3 linked regions of the Homo sapiens genome follow. The protein of the gene in region 3 purifies or fractionates together with the protein of the main gene of each other region. This does not show direct contact. Each region holds a gene or a part of one and is shown on either strand. Other genes may lie near its edges.

Region 1 (3,076 bases), on a different chromosome or scaffold from region 3:
CTTTTAAAGAAGTTCTTAATTCACCATTTAATAGTGCCTCAAAACCTTTCTGCCTTACTTTATGGGAGATGTTTTACCTGTTTATCCTCCTCTGTGTGTGCTGGATAGTCCTTGGCTTTCATTAGCCAGAAAGCAGCAAGCTTTTTGTTGTGTAGTTTCAAGTATGTCTTTCCTAAAAGAAGTAAGTTTTTGCTGTAGAAGTTTGGATCCACTGCACATAAGAAAGAAAAAATGATCTCAGAGGAAACAGTGTTGCTTTTATTTTTAAAGGTTTGTTTCTGAGGTCTAAATTTCAATAAATTTGTGTGGTCAATAAGTGATTAGACTAATGGGAATTCTCTTTTGTTCAACTGTTTATATCTCAAACAAATATTTGTAAAATAATAATTACCAATGAATAAACATCTACAAATGTGCTAGGCACTGCATTATACACATTTCTCATTTTCACAACTTTGTAAGTAGGTATCTCCATTTTATAGATGAGAAGCTGAAGCTCCCGATAGAATGTATGCTATTTGAGGACAGCAATACTCTTTTTAATCTCTTTAGTTCCCTATGGTACCCCACGTGCCTACAACAGTGTGTGAAACATAACATACATTCAGTGTACATCGGCTGAATAAGTGAATGAAATGATGATGACATATATATATTTGATCAACATTTACTGGATGTCAGCTATACTTAAACATAGAGGATGAAACAAAACCTCTGTTTTTTTCAACTTTATAATGAAGAGAGAAACATGAACACAACTAAATGTAATATAAAAATGAAAGGAATGCTTTACTAGATATACAAACTTTGAACTGCTACAAGAAACCAAAAAAAAAAGTGGAGAACATTCTTGGCTGAAAGAAAAGCATAAACAGAAAGCCTATGAATGAAAACATGGAATTATCTCACCAACTTAATTCTTCACAAAGTGTCCCCCTAACAATCTGAGATCCTCTGTATTCAAAGCATACTTTTTCCTGTATACAATTAATGATTAACTCCATTTGCTCCTTAACCAAAATTGTTTTACTTCTTTTATTTGAGCAGATTTGTGTGATGCCATGTTGATATACTTAAGTTGTCCTGGGGTTAAATATATTCGTATATTCAATCATCCGATCATTCATCTATTTACTCAGTCATTCAACAGATTTGCCAAGCATTGTGCCAAGTAATGAGTGTGCAATTGTGAGCCAGAAAAGACAAAGTCCACATCTTCTCAGAATGTACAGTCTTACACATGTAAATGTTCATAGTATTGAGTGATAAGTATCACTGGAAAAATAAAAGATACTAAGGGCATCAGAGGAGCCTCTGAACTGAATATAGGCCAGAAAGAAATAAGGTAAGGTCACTCAAGAATGACTGAAGTTACCAGGGATTATTTTAGCTCCATGAGGGTAGGACCATGTTTTTCTCAACACCCCCAACCCTTAAGTCTCTAAGGTCCTATATTTTTACTTTGTAATTAACTTTTAAATCTGTTAAAAAAAGTCATCCCTAGATTCATATTCATGATATGTGAAACAGTATGATCAAGAGAGGGTATCAGTGAAGGTAATAATGAATAAATCAGAATTGATGAATTACAGAGATAAAACATTCAGATAAAATTCTGTAGAAGATAACTGTTATCATGAAATGAACAAGTCCATTATGTGTGGGATCTCAAATTTAATAAACATGGTATGTCTTCTCCTGATTAAGTTTTATAGAATATATTTCAATGGTTTTTATGGTCTATTTGGTATCATATGCTTATGTCTCTTATCTCCCCCACTTGGTGTATGAATATTAAAAAGGATAAATTTAGGATGGGCTGGTGGCAGTTTCATAGGACTAGTCATTTTTTCAAAACAAACATAACCCGAAACTCTTTTTCACAATATCTGCAATAGAACTAGCCTGGCTGAATAGCAGAATTCCCATTTAAATGCCTCTAATGAGATGCATAATCTTTTTTTGTTTTTTTCAGACAAGTCTCACTCTGTGGCCCAGGCTGTAGTGCAGTGGTGCAATCACAGCTCATTGTAGCCTGGAACTCCTGGGCTCAAGTGACCTTCCTGCCTCAGCCTCCTGAGTAGCTGGGACTACAGGTGTGTGCTACCACACCTGGCTAATTTTTATTTTTATTTTTTGGTAGAGATGAGGTCTCGCTATGTTGCCCAGGCTGGTCTCAAACTCCTGGGTTCAAGTGATCCTTCTGCCTTGGCCTTCCAAAGTGCTGGGATTACAAGTGTTAGCCACCACATCTGGCCAATATGTGCAGTCTTGAATAAGACAATTACCATGTCAGAGACTGCTCTCACAAAGGAAGCAGAATTACATCAAATGATAGACATTCCAGAACTGCAGCTCTAAGTTCAATAGCAGCCTATTTCTCATTCAGGTGATCTTTACTGAATAAAGACTTTAAAAATTGTTTTACAGTATCTAGCACAAAAATAAGTATAACAGAATAAACAACTGCTTTAGACATTGCTATTATAGTATATATTCAGCATTCATACAATTTTAACTATATTAATATGTGTAATCAAAAATACCTTACCTTGTTCTGCCCTGTGAAAGTAGCCTAAGGCCTGTCAAAAACACAAAGAGCCCAAACATAATAAAAAAGATTAAAGAAGACAATATTAAAAAAGCATTGTCTCAAAGATCTACTGCTATATTATATTTAAGTCAGGAAGTAAATCATCTTAAAATAATGGTCACTTCTTCAACAGTGAGAGTTAACACCCAAAGTGAACGTAACACTTCAATCATCAAGATTACAATATATGGACTACTTCTGGTAATAACTTGGTTGCTGTTTAGAACTTGTACCAAACTAACATCATGTGCAGAAAGGAAAGAACATTATCACGTGTAACTCAGCTATTTTGACAGTTCTCTTAAATCATAACTAGTGATTTTTAGTAAAAACAAAATATAATCAAAAGCTGAATTTATTCGTTGTACTAGTGAATTTTTAAGAGTCCATTATTATTGAAATTCCTACATACAATGTTAAGTCTGAAACTCTTTTTGTCCTACTTAAGCTACTGTTTTTGTAATGCATTCTCTAATGACATTT
Region 2 (3,657 bases), on a different chromosome or scaffold from region 3:
TTGAGTGGCCCAGCACTCCTACGGTTGGTGAACTGCCCTCTGGAGCTGAGATCCTAGAGGGCTCTGCCTCTGGAGTTGGGGATCTCAGTGGACTTCCTTCTGGAGAAGTTCTAGAGACCTCTGCCTCTGGAGTAGGAGACCTCAGTGGGCTTCCTTCTGGAGAAGTTCTAGAGACCACTGCCCCTGGAGTAGAGGACATCAGCGGGCTTCCTTCTGGAGAAGTTCTAGAGACCACTGCCCCTGGAGTAGAGGACATCAGCGGGCTTCCTTCTGGAGAAGTTCTAGAGACCACTGCCCCTGGAGTAGAGGACATCAGCGGGCTTCCTTCTGGAGAAGTTCTAGAGACCACTGCCCCTGGAGTAGAGGACATCAGCGGGCTTCCTTCTGGAGAAGTTCTAGAGACCACTGCCCCTGGAGTAGAGGACATCAGCGGGCTTCCTTCTGGAGAAGTTCTAGAGACCACTGCCCCTGGAGTAGAGGACATCAGCGGGCTTCCTTCTGGAGAAGTTCTAGAGACCGCTGCCCCTGGAGTAGAGGACATCAGCGGGCTTCCTTCTGGAGAAGTTCTAGAGACCGCTGCCCCTGGAGTAGAGGACATCAGCGGGCTTCCTTCTGGAGAAGTTCTAGAGACCGCTGCCCCTGGAGTAGAGGACATCAGCGGGCTTCCTTCTGGAGAAGTTCTAGAGACCGCTGCCCCTGGAGTAGAGGACATCAGCGGGCTTCCTTCTGGAGAAGTTCTAGAGACCGCTGCCCCTGGAGTAGAGGACATCAGCGGGCTTCCTTCTGGAGAAGTTCTAGAGACCGCTGCCCCTGGAGTAGAGGACATCAGCGGGCTTCCTTCTGGAGAAGTTCTAGAGACCGCTGCCCCTGGAGTAGAGGACATCAGCGGGCTTCCTTCTGGAGAAGTTCTAGAGACTGCTGCCCCTGGAGTAGAGGACATCAGCGGGCTTCCTTCTGGAGAAGTTCTAGAGACTGCTGCCCCTGGAGTAGAGGACATCAGCGGGCTTCCTTCTGGAGAAGTTCTAGAGACTGCTGCCCCTGGAGTAGAGGACATCAGCGGGCTTCCTTCTGGAGAAGTTCTAGAGACTGCTGCCCCTGGAGTAGAGGACATCAGCGGGCTTCCTTCTGGAGAAGTTCTAGAGACTGCTGCCCCTGGAGTAGAGGACATCAGCGGGCTTCCTTCTGGAGAAGTTCTAGAGACTGCTGCCCCTGGAGTAGAGGACATCAGCGGGCTTCCTTCTGGAGAAGTTCTAGAGACTGCTGCCCCTGGAGTAGAGGACATCAGCGGGCTTCCTTCTGGAGAAGTTCTAGAGACTGCTGCCCCTGGAGTAGAGGACATCAGCGGGCTTCCTTCTGGAGAAGTTCTAGAGACTGCTGCCCCTGGAGTAGAGGACATCAGCGGGCTTCCTTCTGGAGAAGTTCTAGAGACTACTGCCCCTGGAGTAGAGGAGATCAGCGGGCTTCCTTCTGGAGAAGTTCTAGAGACTACTGCCCCTGGAGTAGATGAGATCAGTGGGCTTCCTTCTGGAGAAGTTCTAGAGACTACTGCCCCTGGAGTAGAGGAGATCAGCGGGCTTCCTTCTGGAGAAGTTCTAGAGACTTCTACCTCTGCGGTAGGGGACCTCAGTGGACTTCCTTCTGGAGGAGAAGTTCTAGAGATTTCTGTCTCTGGAGTAGAGGACATCAGTGGGCTTCCTTCTGGAGAGGTTGTAGAGACTTCTGCCTCTGGAATAGAGGATGTCAGTGAACTTCCTTCAGGAGAAGGTCTAGAGACCTCTGCTTCTGGAGTAGAGGACCTCAGCAGGCTCCCTTCTGGAGAAGAAGTTCTAGAGATTTCTGCCTCTGGATTTGGGGACCTCAGTGGACTTCCTTCTGGAGGAGAAGGTCTAGAGACCTCTGCTTCTGAAGTAGGGACTGACCTCAGTGGGCTTCCTTCTGGAAGGGAGGGTCTAGAGACTTCAGCTTCTGGAGCTGAGGACCTCAGTGGGTTGCCTTCTGGAAAAGAAGACTTGGTGGGGTCAGCTTCTGGAGACTTGGACTTGGGCAAACTGCCTTCTGGAACTCTAGGAAGTGGGCAAGCTCCAGAAACAAGTGGTCTTCCCTCTGGATTTAGTGGTGAGTATTCTGGGGTGGACCTTGGAAGTGGCCCACCCTCTGGCCTGCCTGACTTTAGTGGACTTCCATCTGGATTCCCAACTGTTTCCCTAGTGGATTCTACATTGGTGGAAGTGGTCACAGCCTCCACTGCAAGTGAACTGGAAGGGAGGGGAACCATTGGCATCAGTGGTGCAGGAGAAATATCTGGACTGCCCTCCAGTGAGCTGGACATTAGTGGGAGAGCTAGTGGACTCCCTTCAGGAACTGAACTCAGTGGCCAAGCATCTGGGTCTCCTGATGTCAGTGGGGAAATACCTGGACTCTTTGGTGTCAGTGGACAGCCATCAGGGTTTCCTGACACTAGTGGGGAAACATCTGGAGTGACTGAGCTTAGCGGGCTGTCCTCTGGACAACCAGGTATTAGTGGAGAAGCATCTGGAGTTCTTTATGGCACTAGTCAACCCTTTGGCATAACTGATCTGAGTGGAGAAACATCTGGGGTCCCTGATCTCAGTGGGCAGCCTTCAGGGTTACCAGGGTTCAGTGGGGCAACATCAGGAGTCCCTGACCTGGTTTCTGGTACCACGAGTGGCAGCGGTGAATCTTCTGGGATTACATTTGTGGACACCAGTTTGGTTGAAGTGGCCCCTACTACATTTAAAGAAGAAGAAGGCTTAGGGTCTGTGGAACTCAGTGGCCTCCCTTCCGGAGAGGCAGATCTGTCAGGCAAATCTGGGATGGTGGATGTCAGTGGACAGTTTTCTGGAACAGTCGATTCCAGTGGGTTTACATCCCAGACTCCGGAATTCAGTGGCCTACCAAGTGGCATAGCTGAGGTCAGTGGAGAATCCTCCAGAGCTGAGATTGGGAGCAGCCTGCCCTCGGGAGCATATTATGGCAGTGGAACTCCATCTAGTTTCCCCACTGTCTCTCTTGTAGACAGAACTTTGGTGGAATCTGTAACCCAGGCTCCAACAGCCCAAGAGGCAGGAGAAGGGCCTTCTGGCATTTTAGAACTCAGTGGTGCTCATTCTGGAGCACCAGACATGTCTGGGGAGCATTCTGGATTTCTGGACCTAAGTGGGCTGCAGTCCGGGCTGATAGAGCCCAGCGGAGAGCCACCAGGTACTCCATATTTTAGTGGGGATTTTGCCAGCACCACCAATGTAAGTGGAGAATCCTCTGTAGCCATGGGCACCAGTGGAGAGGCCTCAGGACTTCCAGAAGTTACTTTAATCACTTCTGAGTTCGTGGAGGGTGTTACTGAACCAACTATTTCTCAGGAACTAGGCCAAAGGCCCCCTGTGACACACACACCCCAGCTTTTTGAGTCCAGTGGAAAAGTCTCCACAGCTGGGGACATTAGTGGAGCTACCCCAGTGCTCCCTGGGTCTGGAGTAGAAGTATCATCAGTCCCAGAATCTAGCAGTGAGACGTCCGCCTATCCTGAAGCTGGGTTCGGGGCATCTGCCGCCCCTGAGGCCAGCAGAGAAGATTCTGGGTCCCCTGATCTGAGTGAAACCACCTCTGCATTCCACGAAGCTAACCTTGAGAGATCCT
Region 3 (3,340 bases):
GGGATTTTTCTATGGTACCAACATTTGAGAAAGTGAGGAAAAATGGAAAGAAGATGGGCATAGTCCCATCTTGGAATTCTACCTCTGCCACTTACCCAGGTGGGCAACACTGGAACACTTATCTGATCTTGTTAGAAATAACACATCTATCTTACCGTGTTGCATGAAGATTAAATTAAGTTGTGTAGAGCACTTCACACAATACTAGTACATAGTATGTCCTAAATAATGACTAATATCCTTTTGATTTTGCTGTCTTTCTAAATTACTCTACACTAGGAAGATCTCTGATTGGGCTAATGCTTAGAGTTGCAAGTTTGAAATAGAAAACAGTTTGTTTTGGCTATATATTCCCTAATATTAGAAAAAAACATTGAGGGGAACTTTCTGTATTAAGTGAATGTGAAATGTTGATATAGTTGATTATTATCTGGCAAAATAACCTAAACTGAGGTGATACATAAAAAGACAAGGAGAATACCTGACTAAATGTACAAAGATAAGGAAGAAAGAAAGGAAACTATTATGTTACCTTTTCAAATGACCACTATGTACTGGGCACTGTGGTTTCTATCTCAGCTTGGCACTGACAGGCCGTTGGCCTTTCTCCCATAGACCTCTCTTCCATCCTTTACTCATGCAATGTATACCTTCAAATGTGCCTACTTCTGTATCCTTCTTTGTTTCAGAGAAAGAAGTAGCCCTGCTCTTACGAATAATCTCTACCCACCAAATCTAATGTACTCCGTCATCCCTTAAGCATCGTAAATTCCTTTAGCATTTTGGTCTGTCAGAGAGTATCCTTCCTCCTAACCACATATGTTTAAAATGAGGAATCACATATGGCCACATAGTGAATTTTCCACTGGAAACAACAAGAGGGGTTTAGCTGTGTTAGCCTGACTGTGTATTGTGTGACAGTCAAACAGCACCAACCCTTACCTTGGCTGCTTTTCAGAAACAACAAAGAACATGTGGAGCTTCAGAGTTGGCGAGTATGGTCTTCTTTATGAAAACGTTTAACCCTACTAGAGGTTATATGAAACTGGCAGAATTAACAAACATCATATGCATAAAATATATTGTAATATTTTCTGACAGCAATACCTTTATTCAGCATGGCCAGAAAACCAATTTTCATCATGTAGAGATGTTCAAATTCAATAGATTATTTTGCAGACATTATTACTTTATATGTGAATCAATGTTTCCTGCTTGATTTTTTCATTTAGAAAGCCTTATCTGTGAATCATGGTTTTTCTCTTCTACCAAGCTCTGCCAAAGATTAATGGCAGAGTTATCCTGGTAGGAAATGGTGGATTTCAATTTCCCATTGGAATCTATACTGCTTAAGTTGAAGAATGTCCCTGAAGACCACATAAGTGCATAAGCAGTCCAAATGCATCAGATCAAACTTCATCCAGAAGATAAATGAAAAATAAAGAGAGGAGAAAGAGAAAGTGTGGAAATATCAAATGAGGGGCAGGATTGTACCCAAGAAAAAAAAAGCTCTGTAACACTATTTTTCTTCTAAAAAAAAAAAAAAAAAAAAAGATGTTAGAATCTCCCATCATATTTCTTTTTCTCTTTAATCTTCTTCACAGTCCTCCAGAGCACTGTGATGGCCACACACCATAACAGAGATAACAGAGGCAGATGATGATCATGACAGCAGAGTAACATGGTGAGTCCCAAGTAGTTGATGTCAGGGAAGACCATGAGACTATATGGGGCCAGGCACAGTGGCTCACGCCTGTAATCCCAGTACTTTGGGAGGCCAAGGCAGATGGATCAGTTGAGGTCAGGATTTTAAGAACAGCCTGGTTAACATGGTGAAACCCCATCTCTACTAAAAACATAAAAATTAGCCTGGTGGTGGTGGTGGCCTGAGGTGGGAGAATCGCCTGAGCCTGGGGGGTGGAGGTTGCAATGAGCCGAGATTGCACCACCTCACTCCAGTCTGGGCGACAGAGTGAGACCCTGTCAAAAAAAAAAAGAAAGAAAGAAAGAAAGAAAACGAAAGAAAGAAAGAAGGAAAGAAAAAGAAAGAAAGAAAGAGAGAAAGAAGAAAGAAAGAAAGGAAAGAAAGAAAGAAAGAAAGAAAGAAAGAAAGAAAGAAAGAAAGAAAGAGAAAGAAAGAAAGAAAGAAAGAAAGAAAGAAAGAAAGAAAGAAAGAAAGAAAGAAAGGGAAAGAAAGGAAGGAAGAAAGAAAAAGAGAGAGAGAGGGAGGGAGGGAGGGACAATATGGGCTTCTTTGTGGCTATGGAGTTTGCCAACTGTGCCACTTTTGAACTCATTTCTTCCTCCCTCATCTAGATCTTGTCAAAAAATAAATGTAGGACACAAATCTAAGCCATAAAGGAGAAAATAATAAGAGATATATATGAGGAGGTAACACAGCAGGATGAGTTGGCCCGGAATTTTTAGTTTGAAGACTTACATATTAAATTCTGTGACCTTAATTGTTCCTTATCTGGATACACCAAAGAAAGGCTGGATATTGGATATATGATTGAGCTAGAATTATTCTTTGTTTGAAGTAGAGGGATATTTTGTGGACATTTTTTTTTTTTCCAAGACAGAATCTGGCTGTCTTGCCCAGGCTTGAGTACAGTGGCACGATCTCGGCTCACTGCAACCTCTATCTCCCAGGTTCAAGCAATTCTCCTGGCTCAGCCTCCTGAGTAGCTGGGATTACAGAAGTGCGACACCACGCCTGGCTAATTTTTGTATTTTTAGTAGAGATGGGGTTTCATCATGTTGGCCAGGCTGGTCTCAACTCCTGACCTGGTGATCCGCCCACTTCGGCCTCCCAAAATGCTGGATTTACAGGAATGAGCCACAGCGCCCGGGCGACATTTTGTTTTTTTAATGGAGCCAGATGCAATATCTGTGTTGTGCAGCCCAGGTATTTAAACACTTGAGCACACATCAAACACAGGAACAGCTTTTTACTTACTCTCAAGTTGATTGACCTCCAGGTAATAGTTTTCAAGGTTTTCATTGACAGTTGGTATGTTTTTAAGCTTGTTATAGGACAGATCCAGCTCAACCAGGGATGACACATTGAAAGAATTTCCAGGTATTCCACTATCAGCCAGTTCGTTGTGAGATAAACGCAGATACTGCAATGCATTAAAACGCTTGAAATACTCATCAGGGATGTTGCTGATCTTATTGTTGTCTAAGTAGAGAGTTAGAAGAGAGACAGGGAGACCAGAAGGCAGTCTGGCTATCTGATTGAAGCTCAAGTCAAGGTATTCGAGTGATTTAAGACCTTTAAAAGCAGCTGAAACAGCATCCTCTTTCAGCCGATTGTGCTGGAGATGGATGAAGGTCA

Evidence for each region.
Region 1: the proteins of LUM (region 3) and RMDN1 purify together in Homo sapiens (co-immunoprecipitation; one large-scale study listed by IntAct). This does not show direct contact.
Region 2: the proteins of LUM (region 3) and ACAN purify together in Homo sapiens (co-purification; one study listed by BioGRID). This does not show direct contact.

Annotation. Positions count from the first base shown.
Region 1 is NC_000008.11:86,474,743-86,477,818, forward strand, and holds part of RMDN1 (regulator of microtubule dynamics protein 1), read right to left. Parts: intron 2,583-3,076; coding exon 2,552-2,582; intron 855-2,551; coding exon of another isoform or gene 793-854; exon of another isoform or gene 652-792; intron 212-651; coding exon 78-211; intron 1-77.
Region 2 is NC_000015.10:88,855,362-88,859,018, forward strand, and holds part of ACAN (aggrecan core protein isoform 3 precursor), read left to right. Parts: coding exon 1-3,657. UniProt on the Homo sapiens protein: This proteoglycan is a major component of extracellular matrix of cartilagenous tissues. A major function of this protein is to resist compression in cartilage. It binds avidly to hyaluronic acid via an N-terminal globular region.
Region 3 is NC_000012.12:91,105,159-91,108,498, forward strand, and holds part of LUM (lumican precursor), read right to left. Parts: coding exon 2,960-3,340; intron 1-2,959.